2 separate regions of the Homo sapiens genome follow, and region 2 is linked to region 1. Evidence: fine-mapped expression QTL. A gene starts in region 1. The other region holds a variant in brackets. All regions are shown on one strand. Distances are between the middles of the regions.

What was found.
Region 2: its variant is fine-mapped to the expression of PDE4DIP in whole blood (TOPMed, PIP above 0.99).

What each region holds. Positions count from the first base shown.
Region 1 is chr1:148,839,791-148,848,130 of GRCh38, reverse strand. It overlaps PDE4DIP (phosphodiesterase 4D interacting protein), which reads right to left and starts at 3,703. Exons shown (of 47, transcript NM_001395426.1): 1 at 3,337-3,703. The coding sequence starts at 3,356. RefSeq lists enhancers at 2,810-3,532, 3,533-4,254.
Region 2 is chr1:149,020,366-149,028,705 of GRCh38, reverse strand. PDE4DIP (phosphodiesterase 4D interacting protein) reads right to left here. Exons shown (of 47, transcript NM_001395426.1): 40 at 7,553-7,677; 41 at 4,022-4,261; 42 at 1,875-1,991; 43 at 1,079-1,305; 44 at 3-146. Among named protein-coding and RNA genes, the nearest start is that of NBPF9, 79 kb to the left of the region's middle. The variant C/T (reference allele first, on the strand shown) is at 3,223.

The sequences.
Region 1 (8,340 bases):
CAATGTAAATATATTACTTATTGTGAGTAGTGGTTAAAAAATATGTGAACATTCTGAATGGTCCACCTTGCCAGCATTTGCTACTTTCTATCTTTTTAATTTCAGCCATTCTGATATGTATATAGCAGCATGGTGTTGTGGTTCTAATTTGCATTTCCCTGATAACTAGTGATGTGGAGCACCTTTTCACTATGTTCTTCCCTTTGGATACCCTCTTTTTTTTTTTTTTTTTTTTTTTTTTTTTTTTTTTTTTTTTTTTTTTTGAGATGTAGGCTCGCTCTGTCACCCAGGCTGGAGTGCAGTGGTGCGATCTCGGCTCACTGCAAGCTCCGCCTCCCAGGTTCAGGCCATTCTCCTGCCTCAGCCTCCCGAGTAGCTGGGACTACAGGTGCCTGCAACCACGCCGGGCTAATTTTTTGTATTTTTAGTAGAGACGGGGTTTCACCGTGTTAGCCAGGACTATCTCGATCTCCTGACCCCGTGATCCGCCCGCCTCGGCCTCCCAAAGTGCTGGGATTACAGGCGTGAGCCACCGCGCCTGGCCTGGATACCCGCTTTAGAAATCTCTTTTGTAATCTGTTTAAAAAAAAACAATCTGGCAGTATTTACTAAATCTGAACATGCATTTCCTATTACGCAGAAATCATACTTCTACTTATTTACTCAACAGAAATGTGTACATATGTTCATCAAAAGACCTGTACAGAAATGTTCATAGCAACACTGTTTATAATAGCTCCAAACTGGAAATTGCCCAAGTGCCTATTAAGAATAGAATGGACAAATAAATTTGATATATTTATACACTATAGAAGCCTATTTAAAAGCAAGAATAAATGGACTACAGTACCATATAACAGTATAGAACTCCAAAAGCAAAAGATTGAGTGAAAGGAGCCACGTACGAAAGAGTACATGGTGTATAATTTCATTTACATAAAGTTCAAAACTAGGCAAAATTATTCTATGGTGTTAAAAATTAGGATAATGATTATCCTTGAAGTCATCAGGAGGGCTTCAGGGATGCTGGTAATGTTCCCTTTCTCTATCTGAATGCCCATCCCATGAGTATACTCAGTTTGTCAAATTAATTGGACTGTAAATATATAATTTGCGATTTTTCCAAATCATTTCTGAATTTGTCTGAAATTGTTACATGTAAATATAAAATTTTTAAAACTTAATAAATAATACTTTTTTCTTCAAGTGTGAAAAACACTGGCAGAGAGCAAAAGGCCCTGATACACTCACTCCCATCACCATCAAGTGGTCATCTAGCCTTTGCCTGAGTAACTCCAGGGTCAACAATCTCTTTACTGCCCATACTGCCCAGGCAGCTAACTTGTTAGAAAGCTTTTTTTTAATTTTTTTTTGAGACGGAGTCTCGCTCTGTCGCCCAGGCTGGAGTGCAGTGGCGCGATCTCGGCTCACTGCAAGCTCCGCTTCCCGGGTTCACGCCATTCTCCTACCTCAGCCTCCCAAGTAGCTGGTACTACAGGCGCCCGCCACCACGCCCGGCTAATTTTTTTTGTGTTTTTAGTAGAGACGGGGCTTCACTGTGTTAGCCAGGATGGTCTCAATCTCCTGACCTCGTAATCCGCCCCCCTCAGCCTCCCAAAGTACTGCAATTACAGGCGTGAGCCACCTCGCCTGGTCTTTTTTTTTTTTTTTTTTTTTTTTTTTTTTGAGGCGGAGTTTCGCTTTTGTTGCCCAGGCTGGAGTGCAATGGCTTGATCTCGGCTCACCACAAACTTCTCCTCCCGGGTTCAAGCGATTCTCCTGCCTCAGCCTCCGGAGTAGCTGGGATTACAGGCACGTGCGACCACGCCCGGCTAATTTTGTATTTTAGTAGAGATGGGGTTTCTCCATGTTGGTCAGGCTGGTCTCGAACTCCCGACCTCAGGTGATCCGCCTGCCTCAGCCTCCCAAAGTGCTGGGATTACAGGCATGAGCCACTGCACCTGGCCAGAAAGCTTTTTCTTTACACTGAGCCATAACTCGCCTCCCAACAACTCGCTTGCATCGGTTGTTCTGTCCTCCTAAGAGATTCTAATGTGATTCAATCCCTCTACCACCAATAGCTCTTCGGAAATTTGAAGGAAGCTACCACATCCTCCCCACTCCCAGTCGTCATTTCTCCGGACTCAGGAGTCCCAGGTCCTTCCTTTGGCCATCCCTCAAGGCATGGCTTTGAGTTCCCTCCTGTCTCTTGATTGTACTTATTTTATCTAATGATGCCCAGAACTAAGCACAGCCCTCTCGGAGAGGCCCAAGAGGAGCAGAAAGGAGCCAAAAGTAAAATCATCACTTTTGATCTAGACAGAATCTAGACAGCCTACTTCTTCTGTCAACAAACCCTAAGCTTCAATTTGCTCCTTCTTTAATATTCACATTATACCATTCACTCCTGTTGAGCTTAGCAATCAACTAAAAGCACCCAAGTCTTTTGCATAAGCCCCAAATTTACCTTCTGTGTTTGTACCGTCTTCACTCTCTCAGGAGTCAGAGCGCTCATTTGGCCCCACCCCAATTCTCCAAAGCTAAATCCCACAGATGGAAGCGTATCTGTTATAGAGACACCGCTGGAATAGTCTCCCTACCCTCCCACCCACTAAAAAACAGAAACGAAGTCTTTGTCTCAATACATGGTCTCTTATCCTTACCCTTTCCTTGAATGGGGCTTCATTTTAAAGTGTGTCTGGGGGAAGGACTGGAAGAAAACGCAGTTTCACAGGCCATCTCCAAAATCTGACCTAAAAGCCAACTGTTGCCTGGCCTCAATAAAGCCTGAGCAGTGTGGTGCCCTGATCTCTTTCCTTCTCCATTCCTCCCCCAAGTGGGCTCCAACTGGAGGTTGTGGAGATGAGTGCTGCTGGGCTCTGCTCACTCAGTCCCTTTGCCTTTGTGTGAGTAGTGACAGATGAGGCTGAGAAGGAAAACGTGGCAGGGTGAGAATAAACCTGATATTGTTCAAAGCATCTGACATCAAACATATCTCTCAAGAAGACCTACTGGAATCCCTCTAGCCACACGAACAAGGAAACGACAGAGAACCATTTCTACAGAAAGTTCCAGGCGGCCTCCCTGGGTATTTTTAACATCAGGACTCGGTGGAGGGGAGAGTCATTAAGCAAGGGAAACCCCGTAAAACAGAACATGTGAAAATGACCAAGAGAGGTGGGCTGGGAACCAGGCAGGGCGAGGCTACAGAAAAGGGAAGCTGTCACGGGACCCTGGTGGTGAGGGGCGACCTCTCTCTCCCTAAGGGCGCTGGGGGAGGGGAGGGAGGAGGACCACCAAGTCTGGAGCGCGGCGAGAAGGAAACAGCCCACCTACCTCGTCCAGGTCTGCTCCATTTTCCAGGCTCTTTCCTTAGTCTCAGGACGCTCCTCACCCGGGAGGGGAAGCAGCCTGGGAAAATGAGAAGCCTTGCCCACGAATCTCCAGCGCAAAAGGCAGCAGCTTTTTCCTCCCCAGCTCCTTTCTGCGTCGGCGGCGAAGAGAGAGCTCTGCTCCCTGCTTTTTTAGAAAATGGATTTGACGTGGCCGAACCTGCGGCTAGCCGTGCGACCCGCACAAGGGAGGGACTGTTCTCAGTAGGAGGCTGGACTCAGAGCGGCGCGGCGCCCGGGGCTGTTTCGTGAGCTGGAGCCAGCGGCTGCCCGGGCCGCGGTGCGCGCACTCTCCAGGCTGAGACACGACTGGCTGGCACGAGTTGCTCGGCACCAGCTGAGCTGTCAACCGCGAGCGGAGGCGGGGCTCCCGACAACCAGTGTGCTGGGGCAGAATCGGCCCAGGTTACACGCCCCCTGAACCACCCTCGCGTCTCCCCGACCCCTCTCTCGCTGGCTCAGATGAATGATGACGGCAGAGGGCAGAGAGCTTAGAGGACGCGGTACCAAGCCCCGTCCCTCGCCCATCCCAACGAAGGTCTTAGAATACAATCAACCAACTACAGGAAGAATTTGTAGAGGAGGTTTTCTTGTGTGTCTGCATCGCCCCACCCACAGGTAACCCCAGAGCCAGAGATGGAGTCTAGGAAGGTTTAGGAGCAATCCCGGCTGAATGCAGATGTATACCCTACGTGGTCATGGAACACGATGTTGTCTTCCTAGAGATGTGACATGCCAGTTTCACCATTAATCCAGGGACAGGACCCTTCATCAGGAAGGGAAGCATCCCAACAAAACCTTACAGCCCTATTAGCTGCCTGTATCCCAGACATCTCCTGTTTTAGGGTATTCTACCTCCTCGTTTTTCAGTTTCGCCAGCAACTGGGCTCTACCAATAGCTTCAAGGAGGGAGAAGCTTCCTGACTCCCAGAACACTAGAAAAGCCTCAAGACAGTAGCCATCAGGACCTCGACACTCCCTTGTGACTGTTTTAAGATCATGGAAAAGGCCTCTTTGGAGATGGCATTGCCTCAGGCCCTGTACCATGTACTTATGTATCAAGATTTAAACAAGGCAGACATACTATAATTAGAGTGCTTGCCACCCTGAAGCTCCTTTTTAGCTTTCAAATAAGACCGTTTTATTAAATGACATAATCACTGTTATTATTAGCACTATCACTGACCTTTTTTTTTATCTGAAAAAGGCTTTATAGTGCCCACATGTGGCAATGTTAATTTCGTTGTACTTGTTTCAGAGATGATAAATTTGAGACCCCAAAAGGCCCAAAGTCTCTGCTAAGGTTCTGATACAGGCTGTGTTCTCCATTGGGTGGCCCCAGAGATATGTTCCCTGAATTTCTAAAGCTACGACCCACAAGACTTCTCCAGGATGAATTTATTCTTTCAGGCCTCCTAGGCATTTAACTCAGGAAGAACCTGGCATGCCTGGGTATTGGTGAGACTGTGGGGAGTCTGTGTTCTTGGGGGAACCTGTCATCTGTCTGTTATCTCTTGGATTGGTTCCCCTACATACTAGTACAAAGTAGGGGTGGGGAGGGGAGGATAACAAAACATTTGAAGGTTTAGCAGAACTGTCTAAAAAGCCCCTAGTCTAGACTCCTCCAACACTTGATTTATTGGTAGGACCACACTGCTCCAGAGCTCAAAATGTTACCAGGAAAAATTTCAAGGTCCAGTTTGATCTTAGACAAGGCTCACAGGCCACCTGTCTTGAAAAGAATATCCTGTTGCCTCTGATGGGGGGGAAGAAAAGGCAGGGAGAGTCAGATTCCCATCCTTCATACCAAAGTTGGGGCTATATTTAGCTTTGTCTCAAATCAAATTATGGGCTACCGAGTTGTGGAGAGGAACTCTGTCTACAGGCAGCTCACTGGATTCAAGAAATGATAGCACTAACTAGGTGAGCTGTGGGGTCTCAGAAGTGACGCTAGAAAATACGTTCATGTATTTTTAAAATAACTTTTTTCAAAAGTTTATAGCACATTCATTGTAAAAACATTTGAAAAATACAGAAAGTTATATAGATTACTCAGAATACCCAGGGATCTTCAATATTAAAAATGTGTTGCATTTTTTTCCCACTCTTTAAAAAATGCATCTTTTAATCCAAACACCAACTCTTTCTTACACACATGGGTATATTCTTGAGAAGAGAAATTTCCTTGTTGTTTTAAAAATTATACTTATTGTCAAAAGAACAATTTTTTTGCGTTAGATTTCAGAAGAAAAATATTCACCCATATAACCACTGCTACAGCACAAATGTTTAAATTTCTCCAAATTCCCTTTAGTCATTATCTATATATATTAAATATCTATTTACATAATTACGATTACAGCTTAGGTATATGTTTATATTCTCCTTCTTTCACTTAGTAAATATTTGTCCATGTTTTTAGGGAAAGTTCATAGTTATTATTCTAATGAGTGTACAATATTTTATAATATTAGTAGGACCATAGATTACTTAAAATATTCTACTATTGCATAGTTATGCTGTTTCTGATATTAGACTGTTATAAATAATGCCTTAATGAAGAGCTTTCTGCCTTTATCATTCTCCTTTTTTGAATTATGCTATGGTTGAATGTATGTATGCCTTCAAAATTCATACATTGGTACTTAACACCGAGTGTTATAGTACTACAGGGTGGGGCCTTTTAGGAATATGTCTTAGGAAGTGATAAGGCATGAACACTCCACTCTCATGAATGGGATTAGTGCTCTTAAAAAAGAGGTTGAAAGGATTGCTCTGGTCCCTTTTGTCCTCTGTCCCTCCAGCCATGTGAGGACACAGCATCTGTGGCAACAAGGAGCCATCTTGGGAGCAGAGAGCAAGCTCTTCCAGACACTGAATCTGCCAGCACCTTGATCTTGGTCCAGCCTTCAGAACTGTGAGAAATAAATTTCTATTATTTACAAATTACCCAGTCTAAGCTATTTTGCTATAGCAGCAGGAATGGACTAAAGGCGATTTTCCTGGGATAAAAGGACTTTCTAATTTTATTATCTTAGCCTCAAAAGCACTAGAAATTCTCCTTTTATTTTTTTTCTTATTTAATTTGTAAATAATTGGATAGTTATATTTTAGTTCTATATCTAGCTAGTATACTAATAATGTAACACCATCTCATTTTGCTTTACGTTTCTTAGAATACTAGCTAGTAAGGTCTTATTTCATATCCTTTCTTGGAAACCATATGTGTAGTAGCCAGTCTCATGAAATCCTTGTGTTGAGTCACTGTATTAGTCATCTTTTTGCTGAAACAATGCTGCTCAACAAAGAACTCCCCAATCTCAGTATTATACAACACACATCCATTTCTCCCTCAAGGATCTATAGTTTAGGTATGGATTGGTTTAAGTCTGTCATTTTCATGGCAGAGTGCAGGAGTGCAAGAGAGTTGGCAGAGACTCATGATGACTGGTCTCTGCTCAGAACTGGCACAGTCTCGCTTCTGCCATTTTCCGTTCACCAAAGTAAGTAACATGGCCAAGTCCAAAGTCATTGGTGCAGAAAAGTACAGTCTGCCCACAGAGTGCAGGAGGGGAGAGTAATATTTGTGGAACAATAATGCAATCCACCAGTCACTGTATGTGCTGCTTTCTTGCTTTTTGTTAAGCTTTTCTCCTTGTAGATACATGGTAACTTTATTCTTCCTCATCCCATTTTAACTTAGCTATGACTTTTGAACAGTGAAATGTAACTTGTTTCGTTGGCTGAAACGTGAGAGGAAGTCTCATGTGGTCACTTCTGGGAAGAACGCAGACATTTTTAAGAGCTAGTACATAATTGGCCCTTTTCAGTTTCCGCTGTTTTATTGATCCTTGAAGATCAATAAGATGAAGCTTTCATCAACCTAAGTCCCTGAGTTACTGTGATGGTCAGAGCCTTCCTGCTAACCCTAATTGAACATGTAGAATGAGCAAGAAATTCATTTTTGTTGTATTAAGTTACTGAGATTTGGAGATTATTTATTACTGGAGCATAATCTAGCCTATCCTAACACATTGCTTTTTATTTCCATTTTGCAACCAAGTATCGTTATGTGTGTGTCTGCTCTCAGTTTTCTGGCTTAGAACTCAAATAACCGGCCGGGCGCGGTGGCTCACGCCTGTAATCCCAGCACTTTGGGAGGCCGAGGCGGGCGGATCACGAGGTCAGCAGATCGAGACCATCCTGGCTAACACGGTGAAACCCCGTCTCTACTAAAAATACAAAAAATTAGCCGGGCGAGGTGGCGGGCGCCTATAGTCCCAACTACACGGGAGGTTGAGGCAGGAGAATGGCGTGAACCTGGGAGGCGGAGCCTGCAGCGAGCCGAGATCGCGCCACTGCACTCCAACCTGGGCGACAGCGAGATTCCGTCTCAAAAAAAAAAATAAATAAAAAGAACTCAAATAACCTGGGTAAATGATGTTGATAAATTAAACTATTCATTTTATTCTTTCCTGAGGGCACTGCTCTTAGTTTGGTCAACTGATTGTGCTTCAGGGAATACCTGAATTGATGATAAGGGACAAAAAATCGGAAGGTGTCACAGTCTTTACAGTCAGCTCCAAATATTCCAATGATACTTTTACCTTTCATTCAGTTTTTAAAATTCATTTTCCTTTTCTTCTCTCCAACTTGTTTCTGGGTAAAAAGGATTATTGATGTTGATATAGTTTACTGCATAATCTATACATCAATAATAAAAATAGCTATGTCTAATATATTTTTGCCAGATCCTCCTCTAACAATTGTGTGTATACTAACTCTTTTCATCCTCGCAGCAGTCTTTTGAGGTAGGCTCTAGTTAATGCCCACTTTACAAATGACTAATGTGGAGCACAGGGAGGTAAATTATACTGCCCACATTCACAAAGCTGATTGATGGCAAAGCTGAGATTTGAAACCAATCAGTTTTGTTTCAGAATGGCCT
Region 2 (8,340 bases), 180 kb before region 1:
ACCACTTTGCCAGGCAGCACAGGGATGTGGGTGCTTGGCAGGGCCGCTCTCCAGAACATGGTGAGGAGGGAAGCTGACTCCTCTAGGGCATGGTGCAGGGCACTGGTGCTGCTCCGAAGCTCATGAATACCTTTGCTGCCTAGCACCTGGGGAAAGGTAACACCACAGGAGCGGAGAGATTACTTTCTTCCCCCTGCATGGGCTCAAGCTTCCTTTGTGAGTGAGGCATAGAACATGGGCCTGCTTGAACCTGTGAAGCCCTCACACAACCATTTGCAGCTCTCAGAACTAAGGTGCTGCTCCCTTTACCAGGAATGCCTTCCTCCACCTGCAGAACCCACAAGGCTTTCAAAACTCACCCCCCTTGCTATGTCCTCTATGAGCCTGTTACCTTCCTTGCCTGAGATAAATGACCACATTTGTATTGGAGCTCTCACAGCACAGAGGATGACTTCTCATACTGTGCCTGTAGCCCCTTACTGTGCTTATCTACTTGGGTGTGTGTCTTGCCCTCTAGTGTGGGGGCTCCGTGGAGGCAGGGCTGTCCCTACGCATCCATGGGTCTCCAGCAGCTCAGACAGCACAGCCACAGGTTCCTGGTCTCTCTCACTGGCAAGGTGCTCTCAGAAGCTTTGCTGACTGCCTTCCCTCCCTCTATGCAGTCTGCACAAGGAAATGACATGGCTGCCAGGCTTCTCACCCCTTCCACATGTGGGGGCCATACACCTGCAAATCCTTCAGTTTCTATCCATCCCATTGAGTTGACTCTGCCCACAGATGGTCATGTGCCTGCATGACTATGGTAGATAATAAGCTACCAAAGGCTGCTAGGCAATGCCACATGTTTCTGTGGGGCTGAGGGGAAATATCCAGTCAGCTACATCTGGAACAGAGCAGAACTCACAGTGAAAATAGGAGATAGAGAAGAAAGGGCCTGGCTGCTATACATGGAAGAGGAAGTCTCAGCTGTTGAGAGATGCAAAGCATGAAAAAAACAAAAATGGTGGGAGAAGGAGTTAACATCAAAGGAAGAAAGGGCACAGGGAAAGAGTGCACCTAAAGCTTCAGGTGTGATTACCTCTGTGCCTTGGGCTTCAAGGCCAGGGAAGCTGCACGCTGATCTCACAAGAGACACTATCTTTTTGACCAGCAGCTTGCCCTCCGCAATCTGCTGTCTTAGGGCACTGTAGTCATCAATGTGGCCAATGACATGGCGGCCATGCTTATTGGCAAAGGAGCCATCAGTAGCATCACCCTCTAGCTTGGGAGGGGTCTTCATTACTGGAGAAGTATCCAAACCCAAGCCTGAAAAAGAAAATGACAACACAACAGAATCTTCTGTTATTCATAATGATATCCTCAGTTTGCTCCAACTAAAAAAGAGGTAGGGAACAAGAAAAGGACGAGGCCGGGAACAAGAAAGGAAGCCTGGGAATGTACAAGGGTGGGGCAAAGTCCATAGAGATCTTCTGGCTTCTATATTTTTATAATCTTTCTTACATTATCTCTTAATGATAAATTTGCCAGGAGACAATTTTTTCCTTATTGGCAAATGAAATAGGATGAATCATAATAAATAATAAGTTTCTGAGTAGAGAAGACACAGACAAGGAAGTCAAGCTGGATACAGACAGCATTTTCAAGAATAGAGAGATTATGGTGCAATGAAGCAAAAACAGCAGTAGGAAAACTACAGGAGGATGAACAATGGCAAGAAAGGCAGCCACAGAAGGTGCAGGGAGTAGGGCTAAAGGCCTTGGGGCATGCAGAGAAAACTCTCTAAATACAGATAATATGTTTAGAGACAACAAAAGGTTGTTTGCATTAATCACTTTCCATCATCAGTCCCTGGGCCCTTTAGTTGCCATATTTACCATTTGCTCTGTTGATTATGGGCGTTTCTGAGCCAGGAGTAGAGGAAGCAGAGCTGGGGAAGACCAGAGCTGGGGAATTCATACCAACATCCCGGACTGGAGGGGACACAGCTGAATCTAGGGGGTAAAGGCAACCACAGTTTTCAGGAGCCCTGGAACACACTGCACATGAAGCACATGCACACCTAGCTGTCCCCACTGAGACCTAAGGTGGCAGGACTCTCCTCTTACAGAATTATCCATACCCCACAAGCCAAAGCAAAATCAAAAGCCTATGAGTCACTGAGTTCAGAATGTTTCCATTCTTCAGAACAAAAAGATATTCCTGTAATTGAGGGGTGTTCCATGAGAACGTAACTTCTAGTTTGAAAAATTATTAGGTGTATTTTTATAAACCGAGTCTTAAGTATAATTTGTGTGTGGTATCTAATATGATGCCCTGTAACTAAATGTAATATGTATAAATATACATAGTACATATTAAAATCTAGAATCAAAGAATCAAGGAATGAATGGATTCATGGGGGACTCAACATTCTAGTCATCATTCTGATGAGGTAATACTGAAAAAAATTGACTTGTATGAGAAGAACGGAGACAGAAGGCTTGGTGGGTTAACATTGTCTTGCTGGAGACTAAAAAGCAACCCTATGGTGGAGGAATTGGAAAATATCACAAAGAAGGTAGAAAAGGTCCTGCTCAGGCAAGTGTGGCCCAGTGCCTGCTTTCCAGCTCAGGCCTCCGGGGTGCTAGAGAAAGAGGGGCAGGGACTGCATCAGTGGGGCTGAGTCTTGGCTGCTGTATGGGAAGCCAGTGAGAGAAGAAGGCCTGGTTAGAAGGAAGAGTTGGAGACATAACTGAACACCACAACCATCAGGGCAGCCCAGAGGAGGGCAAGGTGTCCAACTAATGTAAGCTGAGCAGTGCCTGGTGGTCAGGCGGTTTGCTTGGTGGACCACATGTGTTTTTTTATTGAATTGCCAAAACAGCATAATCATGTTATTGTCACCTTCATTTGACAAATAAGGTTACTGTCAGATAAATGAGAATCTACAAGAACCACAGAAAAACAAAGATTAACATGACCCAGAAATAGCTGGCAGGAGAGTTTGAAAGCTCAGCTTTAGAGAAACTGAACAGAAGTGGTTCCTGATTTGAATAAAATTGAAGGTATGGCCATGGAGGTGAGTGGAGATGGTGTACTAAACGGTGTATCAAAAGGAGAAAAGGACAGAGGAAGTAGAAATTGAATGATTTAAGAGACTAGGGGGACACCATTGACATTTCAATGAAAACTGGGAGAAGTGAGATTGATAGAGGATATTGAGAAGGGGGACCTGGTCAAACA[C/T]GCCTATCTGAAAAGGCAGGCAAGGGGTGGGGTAGAGAAAGCGAATGATGACCACCCGAAATAAATCACCCACCATCCAGGACTTCCCCAGAGCCCTGTTTCCTTAGGGGCAGGAACATTTTACCATACACTGAGTTCCCCACCTGTGAGGGAAAGGGGGACTAGAGAATCTGGGAAGGTCGGCAATACTGAGACAGGGCACAATGAGCTGGAAGGAACACAGACTGAAAATCACAACATCTGGTTCTGATCCTGGCTTTGTCTATAACTTCTCTAAATCCCCGCTTGTCTGTTAATATCTCAGGACCTAAGTTTTCTTATGTGAAATACAGAGATAGCAAAACCTGCTTTACTTCAGATGAAATTATATATGTGAAAACACTTGGCTAAAACTAAAGCACCAAGCAAATCCAAGAAAAAGATATGAACATATACAGCTGCTAATTATTGAGTAATTCTTAGTGTGCCAAGCACTTGTAAATGATTTCATTTAATGCTCAAAATCATATAAGGTACATATGATCATTATCCTCATCTTAAATATAAGGAAACTAAAGCTTAAACCTCTGAGACTTTAGACACCTTGCCCAAATCAAACGACCTCTAAGTGGTAAACTCAGAATCTGGAGCCCAGTCTGACCTAAATCCCACGCTTTCACTCAGGTTGCTAGACTAGAGCATCTCTGATTTCAACCTGACCCTAAGGAGCATGGACCAGGCAGATTACACCTTCTGCCGCAGAACTTCCTGGTGATCTCCCCACTGGCCAAGGGCTTTCTAAGTCCCTTTTCCTTCCTACCTTGGAGGAGCAGCTGCTTGTTTCCAGGGTCAGTGCTGGCTGGGAAGTTCTGGTTAATGGAGGAGGGGCTGAGGCTGGCTTTGCCAGCACCGCTCTCCAGCTGCTGTTGCAGCTGCAGTCGCAGACAATTGTTCCCCTGAATGCTCTGCTCCAGCTGCCCTCTCAGAGCTCGTACCTCTGCCACCAGGTGGCTCAGGTCACTGCTCAAAGGGATTTGGTGACAGGCATCCAGGCTGTAAGCTGAGAGAGAAGGAGTCTGGTAACATTGACCCAAGTATTTCCAAGCACTTGTCAGAACCCTCCTCTGTGACATTCTTTTCTGCCAAGGACCCCACTATCATCTGAGTCTCATGCAACCCATCTGTGATGGAGATGTCACCATTTCTGTGTGTGGCCTGGGGATGGCACTGAGCTGGCACACATCCAGTCTGAAACTTCCCTGCGGCTTAAGTTACACACATGCACCTATAGAGCATTTGATTGGCAGATGAAGATAAGTCCATATTTCATCTCCATAGTAACCTTAATCCTGTAGGCTAAAGTATAGGATACTCCAAGGTAGAAGGTCAGCACTGAGCTAGAGAAGGGTAGGGGATGAGGAAGAAAGAGATTTCATAGTCCTCACTCTCAAAAATGAAAGAGAAGGAGGAGGTCTTTTGGTAGCATGTGAGAATGTGAGTTGGGCACCTTAGACGAGGGATTATAACTGAGTTTTTCAATTTCTCTCTCTCTCTTTCTCTCTCTCTCTCTATATATATGTGTGTGTGTGTGTACATATATATACACCTACATATAGTGTGTTTATATATGTTGTGTGTATATACATACTATATATAGGTGTATATATGTGCACACATATACATGTACATATATATGTGCACACATATACATGTACATATATATGTACACACATATACATGTACATATATATGTGCACACATATACATGTACATATATATGTGCACACATATACATGTACATATATATGTGCACACATATACATGTACATATATATGTGCACACATATACATGTACATATATATGTGCACACATATACATGTACATATATATGTGCACACATATACATGTACATATATGACATGTACACACATATATATACATGCACATATATATAAATATATATATGTATATATATTTACCTCCATTCACCACATGGCTATTTCTTTGTACTGGGGATGAAGAGATCTAAGAAATATTCTACGAGGCTACAATCCCTTATCTGAAAACCTTAAGGCCAAATGTATTTCGAAAGGTAAAATTTGTTTTAGTTTTTAGCAAGGCAACAGGGTGCATATATCATATATAACATGTACCCAGTTGCATGTGAGCCACAATCCTTTATCAAACATATAACTATTTCCGCAATGAGCTATGTGAATATTCTAAGTAGATAAATAAAGACTTATGAATATCCTCATGTCAGATCATCTAGATTTTGTCACTAAATGAGTATTTGAAAAATTTAATTTGGAAATCTTACTGGATTTTGAAATTACAGATAAGAGATTATGGAGCTTTAGTGGTTGTAGCTTTGAAATGAGTCCTAAAAGGCAGGGAGAAAAGCATGAAAGGAAAGGTAGCTCAGGATGAACCAATTTTAGGGACTTTGGTAAATAATCTACTCTTGAATTTTGCCCAAAGTTTTATGATGTTCCTCTCTCTCTTTCTCAACCCAACTTCTCACTAAATTTTGCTTATTTTTTAAGAGATGTTTTAAAATCTATCTATACCCTTTCATCTTCCCAATAGCACCTTATATTAGACTGTCATCTCTTAATGTGCCAGAATATCACTAGACCCATCCAATACGTTTCCCAGATTCTAATGTCTCCCAATTCCAGGACATCCCCTAAGACTTAGCATCCTAAAGTTCTGTTTTCATCATATGCTTATCTTCTTTGAAAAAGAACAGACTTAGTTTCATTATCTACTATACAGAATGTCAACTTTTACCCTGACCTGTGAGCTTTCAAGATTTGGTGACTCTGCTCCACCATCCTGACTTCTCACTCCAACCTCAAGCTTCTCCTGTGGTCAGGCTGGTCCCACTGACCCAACACTCACCATGACTGTGTACTTAAATTATTCTCCCAGCCTGGTGAGCCCCCTCTATTTCTTCAGGTTCCAGTTCACCTTCTCTTTAGAAAATCAGGAAACTAAATCAGGATTTATGATAATTCTAATCTAACTTCCACTGCCCTTCACTCTTTGTTTAGCCTTCTGGAGGGACATAAAATACATGAGTTCTTTTTCACCTGACACTTCTTCAAATATCCGAAGCCAGTTCTCATGTCCTCAAGATCTTTTGAAAGCCTACATTTCTTTAGTTTCTTTGACTAGTTGGAGATTTCTGGTCCACACCATTGTGCGCCCTGTCTTCATTATGTTCCCTAGTGTGTCAACGCCCTTTTCAAAGATGGTGCCCCTTAATCTAACAATATTTTAGACATGGTCTCCACAGGCGAACATCACACTTACACTACTGTAGTTCCAGTTTGAGCTGGCATTTCTAGCAACCTTTGTCCTACACCTTACTTGTGTGAACATGTTTCTACCAAACCCCAAACCCTCATGTCCATGAATGGCTGCCTGTCCTATATTTCTACCCTCATCCTATATTTCTACCACTGATATTTTTAATCAAGCTCAGGATTTTGCTTTTTATCTTTGCTAAATTTCACGACATTGATGTCGTCCTCTGTTCCAGCCTGCTGTGACTTATTCACATTATGTTTTGAATACCCTTCTCCATTTAAAGAATGAAGAAATATATCAAAATTCTCAAATATTAGATTATTATTTCAGCAGGCAGCAAAGTCTTCAATAAATGTCCTTAATATTTAAATCCAGGATTGAAATTTAGGTCCTATTAGTGGTATTTCTATAAGGTTTTTTTGTTTTTGTTTTTGTGTCTTTTAATTTTCTCCTGTGGGCAGGCTGGTCCCCACTGACTCAACACTCACCATGACTTTGTACTTAAGCTATTCGCCCAGCCTGGTAAGCCCCTGTATTTCTTCAAATTCCAGTTCACCTTCTCTTTAGAAAATCAGGAAACTAAATCAGGATTTATGAAAATTACATGAGAGGGCAATAAGCTGAGCGCCAGATGTCACTAGGGAAAGGGTCAGGGTGGGAGCGGACTGCCTGCTGCATTGGGCTGAATGGGTTGTCAGTATGTATCACCGACAATATTAAAGGCCTTTTCAAATGATGATATCATTAGGACAGTTCTTTTGCTTTCAAAAATGTTACAATCTAGACATTGATAGGAATGTCTAGATTTTCTTAAAGTAATTAGGAATGATCAGGCCGGATCTTGCTCGTGCCACCAACCTGTCCCGTTGGGCTTTGTGTTTGAGAGCTCCTACTGGGAGCCCCAGGCTCGGGTGGGGGTTTCTGCAACAGAACTCTGTAGCTTCCCATGATCTCCACAACTCCCAAAGGAAAGACCTCACTAGCATCCTATGCAAGGGCAAAAAGCTCATGGGGTGAGGGGAGAAGAACACATACCTTTCAGCCCCTTCTTGGAATTGCCATAAAGTGCCTCGTAGATTTGTAGCTCTGACTGGAGGGACTCAAAGAGCTGCTGTTTCTCTTCACACTGTTGCTGCAGGAGAACCAGCTTGTGCTGCAGTCTGACCAGGGAGAGGCAAGGCCCACTGAGATGGCAGAGCTACTCAGCCACACCAGAGCAACAGGCTGAGAGCCAGATGTCAACTCAGAGGGTCATAAAGGGTTACAGTTAGGGTTACATCTGAGCCCCAGATGTCAACTCAGGGGGTCATGAAGACTATCACTTTTATTTCGCAGATATGGAAATGGAGGCTGAGGGAGGTCAAGTAACTTTGCTTGAAAACACACCATTACCTACATTAGTTCAGAGCAGAACAGACACACCAGCACAGTCTCCTTACTGTTCCTACAGTGCTCTTTGCATTCTGACAAGCAGTTACAGGGCTTATGCTGGGACCAAGCATCACAGCCAGTATAGAAGCTTCCTAGGTGATGGTGAGACTAATGTCCTATATCTAATTGGAAGCATGGGAACCCTTCTTTTTCATGTCTCTGATATACTGAAGACTTCTATAACAGAGTTTTACTCTCTCAACTTGGGAGTGACAAGGCATTCCCAGAGAAGTCCTTTCTTCTGCTCAAAGCGCCCCTCCCCCCACCCCACTGACACACAAAAATCAGGAATAGCAGAGGGAACATTTAGGTTTCCAAAAGAGGACATCAATTGTCTTGCCAATATCCCTTCCTCTTGTAATGTAAGAATGAATGTAAGAATGAAGAATGCT